Regions from separate parts of the Homo sapiens genome. Here region 1 is linked to region 2. Evidence: fine-mapped expression QTL. Tissue or cell type: whole blood. Region 2 holds a variant in brackets; the other region holds the start of a gene. All regions are shown on one strand. Distances are between the middles of the regions.

What was found. PIP is the estimated chance that this variant, and not a neighbour inherited with it, causes the effect.
Region 1: it holds the start of TKFC, and the variant in region 2 is fine-mapped to the expression of TKFC in whole blood (TOPMed, PIP 0.98).

Annotation. Positions count from the first base shown.
Region 1 is chr11:61,329,119-61,337,118 of GRCh38, reverse strand. It overlaps TKFC (triokinase and FMN cyclase), which reads right to left and starts at 3,891. Exons shown (of 18, transcript NM_015533.4): 1 at 3,790-3,891; 2 at 2,388-2,499. The coding sequence starts at 2,390. DDB1 (damage specific DNA binding protein 1) reads left to right here and starts at 4,014. Exons shown (of 27, transcript NM_001923.5): 1 at 4,014-4,211; 2 at 5,428-5,576; 3 at 7,045-7,161; 4 at 7,535-7,756. The coding sequence starts at 4,151. RefSeq lists enhancers at 3,407-3,929, 3,930-4,452 and a silencer at 3,752-4,011.
Region 2 is chr11:61,935,229-61,943,489 of GRCh38, reverse strand. It overlaps a transcript of RAB3IL1 not described here and the pseudogene RNU6-1243P. Among named protein-coding and RNA genes, the nearest start is that of BEST1, 11 kb to the left of the region's middle. RefSeq lists an enhancer at 983-1,637 and a silencer at 4,822-4,970. The variant C/T (reference allele first, on the strand shown) is at 4,506.

The DNA.
Region 1 (8,000 bases), 610 kb after region 2:
AACACAGCAGAGGTCACAGCCATGTGTAGTGGGCACTGCTACACGAGGAGCGCACGTGCACCATGGGAGCATAGAGGAGGGGCCGCAGCCTCCCGAGGGGCCTGGAGGTCTCTGGGAAGGATAAGCAGGACCGGGGTAGGGAAAAAGGGGGCAGGAGACATGGGAGGAGGGAAAAGGGAGGCTCTTCCAGCCAGAGGGGGAGCATAAGCCAAGGCCTGGATGAGTGAATAGTGTGGTGGTGCCAGGAAGCACGGGTGACCAGCAGGAAGGGGTGGGGAGGAGAGGACTGGCCACAGGCAGCCTCAGGAGGGGTTGTGGACAGGCTGGTGGAGGGTTACAGAGCAGTGCCGCCAGGCTTGGCTGAGTGGATACAGGGTGCAGACAGAAGTGAGTAGCGTGGGGGCCAGAATGGAGTGTGGCTTGAGCTCTGCTGTTACAGGGACTTGGGTTCAAATCCCACTTCTGCCTCTCATTAGCTGCAGGAACTCAGGGAAGATACATCATTGTCGGGAGCTAAAATTCTTCCTCTGTAAAATAGGGATTTACTAGAACAGAGTATATGCCCATGATATAGTGGAAACTCAATCAAATGAAGCTACTCCCTTTTTCAAACAGGCTGTGAAAAGCCAGAGTCTGCTGAACAAGGGCTGCAGCCCCTGGCTTTGTCCTGAAGACAGAGTGAGACTGGGGCCCAACGTGGACTCAGAGGGCTGGGCTCCCACCGCCACCTGGTGGCCCGGTGGGAACCTGCAGCTGAGCCAGGTCCTGGCAAGGTGAACTTCCGGCTGTGGCTTCTTCCTGAGCTTGCTAGCACCAGCTCCTTTGTACAAAATTTGGCTCTGCTGCCTCCCTGCCAACCTGTCCTGCATCCAGCCAGGGCCAGGGCTAAGCCACCTGCTTCAGAGTAGCCTAGGTCTGTAGGGAGCAAGAAGAACAATAAGATTGGTTCCATTTGCTGAGCAGTGACTAAGAGCCAGGCCCAGTTCTAAGTGTTTTTGAGCATGTCTCATTTAATCTTCCCAACAGGCCGGGTGTGGTAGCTCATGCCTATAATCCCAGAACTTTGGGAGGCCAAGGCGGGTGGATCACCTGAGGTTGGGAGTTCGAGACTAGCCTGATCAACATGGAGAAACCCCATTTCTACTAAAAATACAAAATTAGCTGGGCGTGGTGGCACATGCCTGTAATTCCAGCTACTCGGGAGGCTGAGGCAGGAGAATTGCTTGAACCTGGGAGGCGGAGGTTGTGGTGAGCCGAGATTGCGCCATTGCACTCCAGCCTGGGCAAAAAGAGCAAAACTCCGTCTCAAAAAAAAAAACCCAAACTAAAACAAAACAAAACTTCCCAACAGCCCTATGGAGGAAAGATGAGCCCAGTGAGGAAACTGAGGCACAGTTAAACTATTTTGCCCAAGGTCACACAGCCAGCAGGTGTCCAGGTCTGCCTGGCTCCAAAGCTGGTTCCCTTTTGGCCATATCATGCTGCTTTCTCGAGGGGCTGGAGGGAAGTGGAGGGTGACAGAGGTTGCCCTAGAAAGGACATGGGTTTGTGGCTCTCAGAGCCTACCAGGGACTGGAACACACAATGAAGTTGTGAGTTGGCCTCACTCCAAGCCCAGCCTCCAGCAGCACTACCCTCCAAGAAAGTGGCCTGCTCCCCATCATGATAATCTGTCTTTTACAGAGCCAGAAGAGGGTTTAGGGACCAGTGCTATCCCTGGTTTCAGTGGCCTGAAAGGATGGAAAAGGAAAGGAAGTCAAGTGAGGCCTCCAGGACTCTGCTTGATCAACACCACACAACCACTGGAGGTAGGCCTTAATTTGCCTTATAATGCAGATGAAGAAAAAGAGGCGCAGAGAGGTCTGTAAAAGGTCATGCAGCTGGTCAGTGGCAGGCTGAAATTTGAATCCAGATATGTTCAAGGCTTGTTTTGGTTCAAATCAGTGGGCCTGGAGCAAAGCCCAGGGACATGGCCAGCCTCCCACACTGTAGATCCCAGCTCCAGACCGGCCCACATAAGCCCCAAGGTTAGGAACGGTCACATGGTCATTCTTCACGATTCCTTCTGTGACCGGTACAATGTCTATTACAGAGCAGGTAACTGTTACTGTTTTACTCTGAATGCAAGACCCAGATAAGGGGCAGAGTGGCTCTGAAGGGACTCAAGAGGCTGCAGCCCCAGGCCTGGCTGGGACCAGCAGCCTCCAGGAAACAAAGAAAAGCAGGGATCAGACCCTGGGAGAGAGGATGACCCTCTCTCTTCACCCGTGAGCCTCAGGAGGCAATAGCATCTCTCAGTCAAAGTGTAAGGAGCTTTAGCTTGCCCAAGGCTGGGATCCTGCTTTGAGACCATGCTGCCATTCCCGTCCCGGCCCTGTATGACTCACCATGGTGTGGAGGCTCTGAAACAGGCTGAGTTCACACCGTTGCACTGAGCTGCTGGAGGATGGACAATCCTGTGCTACCTGGGTCTGAGTACAGTGGAGGCAGCAGCAGCACCTGCAGGAGTGGGTAACGATACAAGCTGCGGAAGGAACTCGCAGTCGACTGGCACAATCACGCCTTCAGCACCCTAGTAATTAGGGAGCTGCCCCAGACTTCGGTCCAAGTCCAAACTCTAGTACATGGGCTACGGATGGAGAAGAGTGTGGGGCTGACCAAGGTTCATGCCTGCACTTCACTGCCAGAAGACAGATCAATCCATGTCAAGCACAGGTCTGCCTTTATGTCCAGGAACAGCACCCACTTCATCACTAAAGGACAGTGATCCTCAGAATAACTATCTTTTACACGGGCATCACATGCAGCGAAAAAGTTAACAAAGCTCGTCACACGCTTGCCCTCACTGGCCTTGGCACCAAAAGGGAAGGGAATGGGGGGAGCTAGCCAGGTTTGTGACCCATTTTACTTCTGGGAAACAGACTCAGAGAGCTCTAGGGACTTGTCCAAGGTAATACAGGTAACAGCCAGAATCTAAACCAATGTCTAGTTTTTCTACAGAGTGTGTTTTTACTACTGATAATTCAGTGCCTCCAAAGTCAGGCAGAGTCTCTGCTATGGGAAAGGCAAGATGTAAACCACGATGACTTTCTAGCTTTTCCTCAGTTCAGCCTGGTTCAGCAGCGTGTTGGCCTCTGTGTGGGTGCACAATAGGAAGAATCAACATAGCTCTGCCTCAGCCTACTTGGGGTTGTGGGGAGGGTCTTAGGTAAACCAATTCCTCCCTAAGCCTCAGCTTCCTCATCTGTAAAATGGGGGTTGGCTCCTCTCTGGCATTCTGCGAGTGTGCCAAGCCACGTGGTATTCCTCTTGTTCCCGGGGAGCCTGTTTGATGTGGGGTACCCTGGAGGCTGCAGGGCTGACGGCTCTCCTGGCTCATTAAGGTTCCCTACGGAGAAATACTGGTTTTGTGTTTGAGGTTCGAATTTGTAGAGCAATAGGGGCACTAATAACGTTGGGCAAGCAGACCGGTGGGCCCTTTGAAGTCTGAAGAATCAACGCGCAAAAGGGAGGAGGTGAGCAGGTGGTCGTTCAAACGTCAGGCGAGGGCACCAGCTGGATCTGGAGGAACTGAGACAGTGAAAGGAAAGCAGGCAAGGTTCTAGTCTGGGATATGCACGAATCGCGGTCTCCCTTCCCTCTCTATGCCTCCGCAGTCCTTCCCGTTCCCAAAGGAGGAACAGCCCGAGGGCTCCTGGAGCAACGGAAGGAGGACTGGATGCGGGGAAGGGCAAAGGGCGCGGAACGGGGTGGGGAGTCTGCGGGCGAGCTCGGAGGACACTGGCGCACCTCCCCCGCCGGCTCACGGCCGCATCCGCCACATCCGAAGGCGCCGCGACTTCCCGGAGACCCCGAAGCGTGCGCTCTCATCCGGGTCCTGCGGGCGCTGGCGGAAAGAGGCGAGGCGGTGCCTCCGGGGGCGGGGCCTCCTTCGGTTGGCGGCCTCGGGCTTCGGGAGTCCTCCAAGAGGCCAGGTGAGGCCGTCCCGTGATGCCCCGCGCCCCGGCCGCTCTGGCCTGCAACGTGTCTCTGGGGCGGAGGCAGCGGCAGTGGAGTTCGCTGCGCGCTGTTGGGGGCCACCTGTCTTTTCGCTTGTGTCCCTCTTTCTAGTGTCGCGCTCGAGTCCCGACGGGCCGCTCCAAGCCTCGACATGTCGTACAACTACGTGGTAACGGCCCAGAAGCCCACCGCCGTGAACGGCTGCGTGACCGGTGAGGCTGCCGGGGCCGGAGACCCCGGCGAGTGAGGGAGTTGGGGGGAGCCGCGGCCTAGGGAGGCCCGCCGCCCCGGGGGCGGCCGGGCAGGAGTGGGCCCGGCGAATGGAAGGCGCTGGCGGCCGAGGAACCTCCCCCAGCACCGCGACCTCGAAAGAGTCGTCCCTGTACGCGCTTTTTGGGGGTTGGAAGCCGCTCTCGAGGGTCCCCTTTCGTCCTGGGGAGGTCATTCGGCCTCGAGAACAGGGCGGGCCCAGTGAGACAGAGGAGTGTGAGTTGGTTGTGCGGTGTCGTTTGGGCCCGGAGATTGGCTTTCTGTGGCCAGGAAAAGGGGAGGTGGTAATGACGACTTTGGGGTCAAGATTTTCCTGTGGGGAAGTCTGGGGGGCCCAGGAGGTGGAGGGATGTGAGGAATGCCCGCATTATCCCACAGAGGGAGAGGAGCCCTCTTCAGGCTAACCCCTTTGCCTGGGGCTGTTGTTTACATGAGGGCCCTGCTGGAGAAGAGGGTTTGGTTTGCCTGGCCCAGTGCTGGGTTTGCCTTGTTGACGATGCGCTTGGATTGTTAAGGACACCGATGTTCAGAACCCGGGAAGAGTCATCTTAACCCACATTCTCAGCTGAATATGCAGACCCCAAGCTTGCATGTTTATATACACCCTAATCATGATTCCAAAACAAAACTGTTGTTCAGAGTTGGAGGTAGCTGAGTGTGGATGGAGGTATTGGTAGACTGCCAGGAGGGCAGGGGGTGTGGACAAAACAGTGTTTTCATATAAAGCTCTGGGACTTCTTCATTTGACTTGGTCTGTCAGATAAAAGTTTTGTGAGACTTTAGATGAAGACTGGAAGAAGTGAACACTTTCTCCGGCATTCTCAATTAGAGCCTGCCACTGTAACTGTAATAGAGTAAAATTGGAGGGGCAAGAGGCATGAGAAGGGATTACGCAGTCATTGTCATTTGGAGGACACACGGCTCTTAGGTCCAGTCCAGTTTTCTTAGTCTGATTAGGGAAGTAGCTTTGTTGAATGCATGAACTGAGACTCTTTGAGGTGCCGGATTTGGCAAGAAGGGGAGTAGCTGGAGGGAGTTGGAGAAGTATGTGAAGTAAATGAGAATTCTGGAGGTATTTAGACATAAGTGATAGGATTATTTTGAAGGGATGGGAGGCCCTTCCCCTGAGTTCAAAAGTTAGAGGGTCTGTTCTTTCAGGACACTTTACTTCGGCCGAAGACTTAAACCTGTTGATTGCCAAAAACACGAGATTAGAGATCTATGTGGTCACCGCCGAGGGGCTTCGGCCCGTCAAAGAGGTGGGCATGTATGGGAAGATTGCGGTCATGGAGCTTTTCAGGCCCAAGGTAAGTGTTGCAGTTGGGACAAGCAGTGGAGGGGGAACTGTTGGTCGTAGGTTGTTTTATGTTATTTTTGTTTGTTTATTTATTTTCTTTGAGACGGGGGTCTCACAGTGTTGCCCAGGATGTCTTGAACTCCTGAGCTCAAGCAATCCCTCCACTTTAGCCTCTGGAGTAGAGTAGCTGGGGTATTGTAGGCATGCCACCGTGCTTGGGCTGTGTTAGGTTGTTTTGCGAATTCTTGGGATGGGTGGAATATGCTTTAGGAGAAAAACTCTTCTCTTTTTTCTCTCTTTGGATAGCAAATTTCAGTATGTACTCTTGACCAAGCTTTCTAGAAGTAAAAGGAGAGATTCATTAGGGAAACATTTATGAAGTTGACTTCTTTAGAAGGGAGAAATTAAAGCAGTTTGTTTCAGAGGATAGGCTACAGAGTGGGGCAGTCCTGGCTTCATTTCTTGTTAATTCTGACTTTAGGTGCCACTTAAGGCACCTTTCAGATCAAATCCCCTGGGTTGTTGTGACGATGAAATGATTCAGTAACATAGGGCCTATCATATAGCAAGCATTTACAGTTATGTTAACAATTACCAGGCCGGGCATGGTGGCTCACGCCTGTAACCCCAGCACTTTGGGAGGCCGAGGTGGGTGGATCACGTGAGGTCAGGAGTTCGAGACCAGCCTGGCCAACATGGTGAAACCCCATCTCTACTAAAAATACAAAAGTTAGCCGGGTGTGGTGGCACGTGCCTGTAATCCCAGCTACTTGGCAGGCTGAGGCACAAGAATTGCTTGAACTCAGGAGGCGGAGGTTGCAGTGAGTGGAGATGGCGCCCATTGCCCGGTGACAGAGCGAGACTCCATCTCCAAAAAAAAAAACACCAAACAAAAAAAACAATTACCATCAGTATTTTCATTATTTTAGCGCAAATGTTTTCATCCAAATCACCACCACATTGCTTTATGTTGTCTTAACTGAATCTGGCAAGAAAGCAGTGGGTTCAAAATTTTAATTATAACCCTTTGAACAAAACAGCAATTTTTTGGAGTCTGTGTTAAATAAGTAGGACTTTGTTGATCCATTTTAGCTTCCGTTGTTATTCCCACATTTTTTTTCCTCTTTCTTCAAATACTTGGGGAGGAGTGGAGGAGGCATTACATTCATCTTTCAGAATTTGAATGGGATGATTGAGATTAGCTTGAGATTGAAATAGATGAAGACTTTGTTTGTAGAACAGAGAGATGGAGAATCATGAAAGTGAGAACTAGATGTTTACCAGCTTCAGTTCTGGCTTTTTGTACATGCCCTTAGGGTGTATGTGTACCTAGTGTGGGTTACAAGCTCACCATGTATTTTCTCTTTAGGGAGAGAAGAATTTGGAAAATTCTTAAAGAATTTGGTGTGCTTAAAGACTGGACAGGTTGTTCCTGTTTTAAAAAGAACCTCTTTTGATAGCATAATATTGGTTTCCAGGGGGAGAGCAAGGACCTGCTGTTTATCTTGACAGCGAAGTACAATGCCTGCATCCTGGAGTATAAACAGAGTGGCGAGAGCATTGACATCATTACGCGAGCCCATGGCAATGTCCAGGTGAGGTGGCTGCTTTAGGCCAATGAAAGTTTTCTAAGTAGGGCTGTCATGATTCATGGAAAAAATTAAAGTGCTGGGGGCAGCTCTCTATTCGATCAGAGAAATAAGGAGAAGACACTATGGGTTTGAGCTTTTTGGAGAAAGGACTCCTGTAGTTCACTCAAGACCCAAGGGACAGGGTAATAATTCATTGAGATTCAGTGTTTCATGAAAAAGGCATGCACTGACATTGGGGCTCCAACTATTTGGCCTATCAAATAGATCCATTAGTTTTAATACCTCTCCTAAAATTTTTCTGCACAAGTGGTGCCCAGCGTCCTCTGTTGCTCTGTGGATGTTGAGGTTCTTCCCTAATCCCGATTTTGTTTCTCAGGACCGCATTGGCCGCCCCTCAGAGACCGGCATTATTGGCATCATTGACCCTGAGTGCCGGATGATTGGCCTGCGTCTCTATGATGGCCTTTTCAAGGTTATTCCACTAGATCGCGATAATAAAGAACTCAAGGCCTTCAACATCCGCCTGGAGGAGCTGCATGTCATTGATGTCAAGTTCCTATATGGTTGCCAAGCACCTACTATTTGCTTTGTCTACCAGGTACTGGATCAGGAAGAGAGAGCGAGAAACTGTGAGGTTGATGTGATAGGAGTTGTTTTTGCTAACTGGCATGTCTGGGTTTGGTAGGATAGAGAGAAGTGTTTAATGTGTTTGTCCTGAAATGTTTTGAACAACACAATTAATATGGGTCAGACTTTCGTTGCTTCTTGAGTGCAGTAGTACTTATTGTGGAGGCAGCAAGCTCTCTGGGGCTTGTAGCAGGTTTTAATCCTGAGATTACACT
Region 2 (8,261 bases):
GTTTTTAATTCATTTTGAATTTTAAACATTAAAATTTTAATTTAGATAAATTTTGACACTGTCAAATCCAAGGTCATGAAGATTTACCCGTACGTTTTCTTCTAAAACTTCTATCGCTTTAGTTCTTACATTTAGGAATTTGACCTATTTTGAGTTAATTTTTATGTATCATTTGAGGTAAAGGTCCAACTTTCTTCTTTTGCATGTAGCTATCCAGGTGTCCATGTATATTTGTTGAAAAGCATATTCTTTCCTATTGACTTGTCTTGGCATACATGTTGAAAATCAATTGATAATACATATATGGGTTTATTTCTGGACTATCAATTCTATTGAGCTATATGTCACTTCAATATTTCATTGTTTTAATTATGTAGCTACGTAGAAATTTCGAAACCAGGAGTGTAAGTTCTCCAACTTTGTTCTTTTTCAAGATGGTTTTAGCTATTTGGGGTCCATTGCAATTCCATGTGAATTTTAGGATCGCCTTGCCCATTTCTGCAAAAAACGCAGTTGGAATTTTGATGGGGATTACACTGAGTCTGTAGATCACTTAGTCATCTTTACAACATCAAGTCTTCCAATCCATGAACATAGGATGTCTTTTCATTTATTTAGGTATTCTTTAGTTTCATTCACCACTGTCGTAGGGTTTTCAGTGTACAAGTCTTGCATCTTCTTGGTTAAAAATATTCCGAAGTCTCTTATTCTTTTTAATAAGAATAAAGTTCCATTTTGTAAATGGCATTATTTTCTTAATTTTATTTTCAGATTGTTTATTGCTAATGTATGGAAATACAGCTGATTTTTGTATATTAATCTTGTATCCTGTAACTTTGCTGAATTTATTTACTAGCTGTAATAGTTTTTGTGTGGATTCTTTAGGGTTTACTACATATAAGATCATGTCATAATTTGCCAGGTGCAGTGGTTCATGCATGTCATCCCAGCATTTGGGGAGACCAAGGAGGGAGAATTGTTTGAGCTCAGGTGTTTTTTGTTTGTTTGTTTGTTTGTTTTTTAATTTATTTTTTTATTGATAATTCTTGGGTGTTTCTCACAGAGGGGGATTTGGCAGGGTCATGGGACAATAGTGGAGGGAAGGTCAGCAGATAAACAAGTGAACAAAGGTCTCTGGTTTTCCTAGGCAGAGGACCCTGCGGCCTTCCACAGTGTTTGTGTCCCTGATTACTTGAGATTAGGGAGTGGTGATGACTCTTAACGATCATGCTGCCTTCAAGCATCTGTTTAACAAAGCACATCTTGTTTGTTTGTTTTGAGACGGAGTTTTGCTCTTGTTGCCTAGGCTGGAGTGCAGTGGTGCGATCATGGCTCACTGCAACCTCCATCTTCTGGTTTCAAGCGATTCTCCTGCCTCAGCCTCCCAAGTAGTTGGGATTACAGGAGCACGCCACCATGTCTGGCTAATTTTTGTATTTTTAGTAGAGGTGGGGTTTCACCATGCTGGCCAGGCTGGTCTCAAATTTCTGACCTCAAGTGATCTGCCCGCCTAGGCCTCACAACGTGCTAAGATTATAGGCATGAGCCACCATGCCTGGCCTTTACACTGATTTTCATATGTTCAACTACCTTGCTTGCATTCCCATGATAAATCCCACATGGACACGATGTATAATCTTTTTAACATGTTGCTGGATTGGATTTGCTAGTATTTGGTTGAGGATATTTGCATCTATATTCATAAGGGATATTGGTCCGTATATTCCTTCTTTTTTTTGAGACAGAGTCTTGCTCTGCTGCCCAGGCTGGAGTGCAGTGGTGCGATCTGGGCTCACTGCAAGCTCCGCCTCCTGGGTTCACGCCATTCTCCTGCCTCAGCTTCCCGAGTAGCTGGGACTACAGGTGCCTGCCACCACACCTGGCTAATTTTTTGTATTTTTAGTAGAGATGGGGTTTCACCACATTAGCCAGGATGGTCTCGATCTCCTGACCTCGTGATACACCTGCCTCAGCCTCCCAAATTGCTGGGATTACAGGCGTGAGCCACCACGCCCAGCCTGGTCTTTATATTTCTTTCCTTGTGAGATATTGTCTGGCTTTAGTTTTAGGATAATACTGGCACAAGAGAATGGGTTATGAAGTATATTCTTCTCTATTTTTTGGAACAGTTTGTGGATTGGCATTTATTCTTTATTTGCTCCTAATCGTTTCTCTATTGGAAGTTTTTTGATTACTGATTCAATCTTGTGTTTGAGGTCTATTCAAGTTTTCTGTTTCTTCTTGAGGAAGTTTTGGTTTCTAGGCATTTGTTCATTTAATCTAGGTTATCTAGTTTGTTGTCATACAATTTTTCATAGTGTTCTATAATTCTTTCTGTATCTGTAAGGTTGGTAGTAGTTTTTCTTTTTAAAATGTTTTATTTATTTTATTATTTATTTATAGAAACAGAATCTCACTTTATCACCCAGGCTGGAGTGCAGCTGTGTGATCATAGCTCACTGCTACCTTGAATTCCTAGGCTCAAGGGAGCCTCCTGCCTCAGCCTCCCAAGCAGCTGGGATTACAAGCACGTGCCACAGTGCCTGGCTAATTTTTACATTTTTTTTTTTGAGATGGAGTCTTGCTCTGTTGCCCAGGCTGGAGTGCAGTGGTGCATTCTCGGCTCACTGCAACCTCCACCTCCCGGGTTCAAGTCATTTTCCCACCTCAGCCTCCTGAGTAGCTGGGACTATAGGCAAGTGCCACCATGCCCCGCTAATTTTTGTATTTTTAGTAGAGACAAGGATTCACCATGTTGCCCAGGCTGGTCTCAAACCCCTGACAAGTGATCCGCCCACCTCGTCTTCCCGAAGTGCTGGGATTACAGGCGTGAGCCACCGCGCCCAGCCTAACTTTTAAACTTTTTGTAGAGATAGGGTCTCACCATCTTGCCCAGGCTGGTCTCGAACTCTTGGGCTCAAGGAATCCTCTCGCCTTGGCCTCCCAAAATGCCAGGATTACAGGCATAACCACTATGCCTGGCCACATTTTTATTTTTAATTTTTATTCATTCATTTATGTATTTACTTTTTTTTTTCTTTTTTTTTGAGACGGAGTTTCACCCTTGGTTGCCCAGGCTGGAATGCAATGGCATGATCTCGGCTCACCGCAACCTCCACCTCCCAGGTTCAAGTGATTCTCCTGCCTCAGCCTCCCGGGTAGCTGGGTTTACAGGCATGCGCCACTATGCCTGGCTAATTTTGTATTTTTAGTGGAGACAGGGTTTCTCCATGTTGGTCAGGCTGGTCTCGAACTCCCGACCTCAGGTGATCTGCCAGCCTCGGCCTCCCAAAGTGCTGGGATTACAGGCGTGAGCTACTGCACCCAGCCTATGTATTTACTTTAGAGACAGCATCTTGCTCTATCACCCAGGATGGAGAGAAGTGGTACGATCATAGCTCACTGCAGCTTTGAACTCCTGGGCTCAAGGCAATCCTCCTGCCTCAACCTCCCCAGTAGCTAGGACTACAGGCACGAGACACCATGTCCAGCTAGTAGTAATTTTTCTACTTTCGTTCCTTTTTTTTTTTTTGAGACAGAGTCTCACCCTGTTGCCCAGGCTGGAGTGCAGTGGCAAGATCATAGTTCACTGCAGCCTCAATCTCCTGGGCTCAAGTAATCCTCCTGCCTCAGCCTCTCAAATAACTGGGACTACAGACATGTGCCACCACACCTGGCTAATTTTTTAATATTTTATTTTTAGCAGAGACAAGGTTTCCTTATGTTGCCCAAGCCGGTCTTGAACTCCTGAGCTCAAACAATTCCCCCGCACTGGCCTCCAAAAGTGCTCAGATTACAGGCGTGAGCCACTCCAGCCTTATTCCTAACTTTAGTAATTTGAGTCTTCTTTTTTTTTTTTTGGTCAGTCTAAAGTTTCATCAATTTTCTTGATCTTTTTGAAGAATCAACTTTTGTTTTCATTGATTCTTTCTGTTGTTTTTCTCTTTTCTATTTCATTTATCTCCACTCTTAATTTTTATTCTTTCTTTTGCTTGCTTTGGGTTTAGTTTATTCTACTTTTTCTAGTTCCTTAAATTGGAAGTTTAGGTTATTAATTGGAGATCTTTCTTCTCTTTGATGTAGGTTTTTACAGCTATAAATTTCCCTTTGAGTACTGCTTTTGCTGTATTCGATAAGTTTTGGTATGCTGTATTTTCATTTTCATTCATCTCATCTAATTTCTCTTGTGATTTTTTCTTTGATCCGTGGGGCAGTTAAGAGTGTGTTGCTTAATTCCCACATATTTGTGAATTTTTCACTTTTAATTCTGTTATTTCTAATTTCATTCCTTTGTGGTTGGAAAGATAATTCATATGATTTCAATTCTTTAAAATTTATTAAGACTTATTTTGTGGTCTAACATATGGTCTATCCTGGGGAATGTTTTATGTGTACTTTGAGAAGAATGTATATTCTGCTATGGTTGGGTAGAGTTAGCACTGTTCAAGTCTTCTATGTCCTTATCTAGTGTGTAGTTCTAGCCATTATTGAAAGTGAAGTATTGA[C/T]GTTTCCAACTATTCTTTTTATTTATTTATTTATTTATTTATTACTTTTTTTTATTTTTTGAGACAGAGTCTTGCTCTGTTACCAGGCTGGAGAGCAGTAGCACAATCTTGGCTCACCGCAACCTCCACCTCCCAGGTTCAAGCCATCCTCCTGCCTCAGCCTCCCAAATAGCTGGGATTACAGGCACACACTGCCATGCCCAGCTAAATTTTGTATTTTTAGTAGAGACAGGGTTTTACCATGTTGGGCAGACTGGTTTTGAATTCCTGACCTCAGGTGATCTGCCCACCTCGGCCTCCCAAAGTGCTGGGATTAGAAGCATGAGCCACTGTGCTCAGCCGATATTTCCAGCTATTCTTGCTGGCCTGTTTCTACTTTGAATTCTGTCCATTTTTGCTTCAAATACTTTGAGGACTCTCCTGTTAGGTGAAATATATAATTGTTATATCTTCTTGATGAATTGAACCTTTTATCATTACAAAATGTTTCTCTTTGTCCCTTGTAACAATTTTTGCCTTGAGGTCTATTTTTTATAATATTAGGATATCCACTCCAGCCCTCTTTTTGTTAGTTTTCATGGAATATATGTAGTATTTAAATACAGAGTCCCTTGTCACTCAAGCTGGAGTGCAGTGGCTGCAGCCTCAAACTCCTGGGCCGAAGGGATCCATCCTCCCACCTTAGCTTCCTGAGTAGCTGGGACTACAGGTGTGTGCCACCATACCAGGTTTTTTTGTTTGTTTGTTTGTTTTAGTAGATAGCATAACTTCGTTGCCCAAGCTGGTCTTGAACTCCTGGCCTCAAGAAATCCTCCCACTTCAGCCTACCAAAGGGCTGGAATTACAGGCGTGAGTCACTGCCCCTAGCCTGGAATATCTTCCATCCTTTCACTTTCAACAATTTGGGTCATTTGAGCTAAAGCGAAGCTCTTGTAGACAGCATATATAGTTGGATCATGTGGGGTTTTTTTTTAATTTTTTAATTTTATAATGGAAAGCTTCACAAATTTGCATGTCAACCTTGCACAGGGGCCACGCTAATCTTCTCTGTATCATTCCAATTTTAGTATATGTGCTGCTGAAGTGAGCACTGGATCATGTTTTTTTTAAAAAAAATCAATTCTACTAATCTCTGCCTTTCAATTGGATAATTCAATCCATTTACAGTTAATGTAATTACTGATAAGGATTTATTCCCATTTTGCTATTTTTTATATGCATTATATATTTTTGTTTTTTTGTTCCTCAACTCCTTCATTATTGCCTTCTATTGTGTTAAATATTTTCTAGTGCCCCATTTTGATTCTCTTTTTTTCTTTTGATTCCCTTCTTTTCTTTTCTTTTAGTTATTTTCTTAGTGGTTGTCTTGGATATTGAACAATTTGGCTGGGCATGGTGACTCAAGCCCTACCACTTTGGGAGGCTGAGGTAGGAGGATTGCTTGAGGTCAGAAGTTTGAGACCAGCCTGGGTAATAAAGAAAGACCCCGTATCTAGCCACCCCCCCACCAAATTAGCCAGATGTGGTGATGTGCACCTGTAGTCCCAGCTACTCAGAGGCTGAGGTGGGATGATCACTTGAGTCCAGGAGTTCATGGCTGCAGTGAGCCATAATCGCAACACTGCACTCCAGCCCAAGCAACAGAGCAAGACCTGGTCTCAAAAACTGCAACTACAACAAAAAATTTAAATAATAATATTTAACAATCTAATTCTAATTAATACCAACTTAGTTTCAATAGCATGCAAAATCTTTGAACCTCTATAGCTTCATCCCCTACCTTTCATGTTTTTATTGTCAGTAATTACATTTTTATGCCTTACATGCCCATCAACATAGATTTATGGTTATTGTAGATGTATTTTAAATTATATAAGGGAAAAAAGAGGAGTTTAAACTAAAAATACAGTAATACTAACTTTTATATTTATCTATGTATATTTACCTATGTATTTATTTTACTGATGTTCTTTATTTCTTCATGTGGTTTTGAGTTACTATCTAGTGTCCTTTAGTAGCAACCTGAACAGCTCCCTTTAGCATTTCTTATATGGCAGGTCTACTAGCGACAAACTCTCTCGACTTTAGTTTATCTGAGGATGTCTTGAGTTCTCCTTTTTTTTCTGAAGGATAGCTTTGCCAGATATAGAAATCTTAGTTATATATAGATAGATATAGAAATCTTAATCCTCTTTTGTTTGTTGGTTTCAGCATTTTCTGAATATATCATCCCACTATCTGGCCCCCATGGTTTCTGATGAGAAATAAACTGTTAATCTTATTGAGATTAGCTTATATGTGATGAGTCACTTTTCTCTTGTTGTTTTCAAGATTCTCTCTTCAGGCGGGGAATGGTGGCTTACGCCTGTGATCCCAGCACTTTGGGAGGTCGAGGTGGGTGGATCACTTAAGGTAAGGAGTTTGAGACCAGCTTGGTCAACATGGCGAAACCCTGTCTCCCCTAAATATACAAAAATTAGCCAGGCACGGAGGAGGCAGATGTTACAGTGAGCTGAGATCGTGCCACTGCACTCCAGCCTGGGCAACAAAGTGAGATTCTGTCTCAAAACAACAACAACAAAAATCAAGATTCTCTTTTTATCTTTGTCTTTCAATAGTTCGATTCTAATGTATCTTGGTTTTGATCTCTTTGTGTTTATCCTACTTGGGATTCATTAGGCTTATTGAATGTGAAGATTGAATCTTCCATTACATATTGGAAGTTTTGGGCCATTATTTCTTCAAATATTCTGTCTTCTTCTTTCTCTGCCTCCTCTCCATCTGGGACTTTCATTATGCATATGTTGTTATGCTCGATGGTATTCCATGGGTCTCTTAAACTCCATTTGCTTTTCTCCATTCTTGTTTCTCAGATTGTTAATCTCAGTGGACTTATCTTCAAGTGTGCTGATTGTTTCTTTTGCCTGCTCTAATCTATATTGACCTCCTCTAGCGAATTTTTATTTCAGTTATTATACTCTTCAACTCCAGAATTTATTTTTCTCTTTTTTCTTTTTTTTTTAAATGTTCCTCTTGGCATATACCTAAAACTCCAGGATTTCTATTTGTTTTCTTTTTATAATTTATCTTTATTTATACTCTATATTTAGTGAGATATAGTTCTCATGGTTTCCTTTAGGTCTTTGAGTAGATTTAAAATAGTTGATTTAGGCCAGGTGTGGTGGCTCACCCCTGTAATCGCAGCACTTTGGGAGGCCGAGGTAGGTGGATCACCTGAGGCCAGGAGTTTGAGACCAGCCTGGCCAACATAGTGAAACTCCATCTCTACTAAAAATACAAAAATTAGCCAGGCATGGTGATAGGTGCCTATAATCCCAGCTATTCGGGAGGCTGAGGCAGTAGAGTCACTTGAACCTGGGAGGTGGGGGTTGCAGTTAGCTGAGATAGTGCCCCTGCACTCCAGCCTGGGTGACAAAACAAGACTCCATCTCAAAAAATAATTAATTAACTAATACAATAAAATAGTTGATTTAAAGTCTATCTATAAAGTCTAATGTCTGTGCTTCCTCAGAAACAGTTTCTTTCTTTTTTTTTTTTTTTTTTTGAGACACAGTCTTGCTCTCTCACCCAGGCTGGAGTGCAGTGGCTCAATCTCAGCTCACTGCAACCTCTGCCACACGGGTTCAAGCGATTCTCCTGCCTCAGCCTCCCAAGTAGCTGGGATCACAGGTGCGTGCCACCACACCCAGCTAATTTTTGTATTTTTAGTAGAGATGGGGTTTCAACATCTTGGCC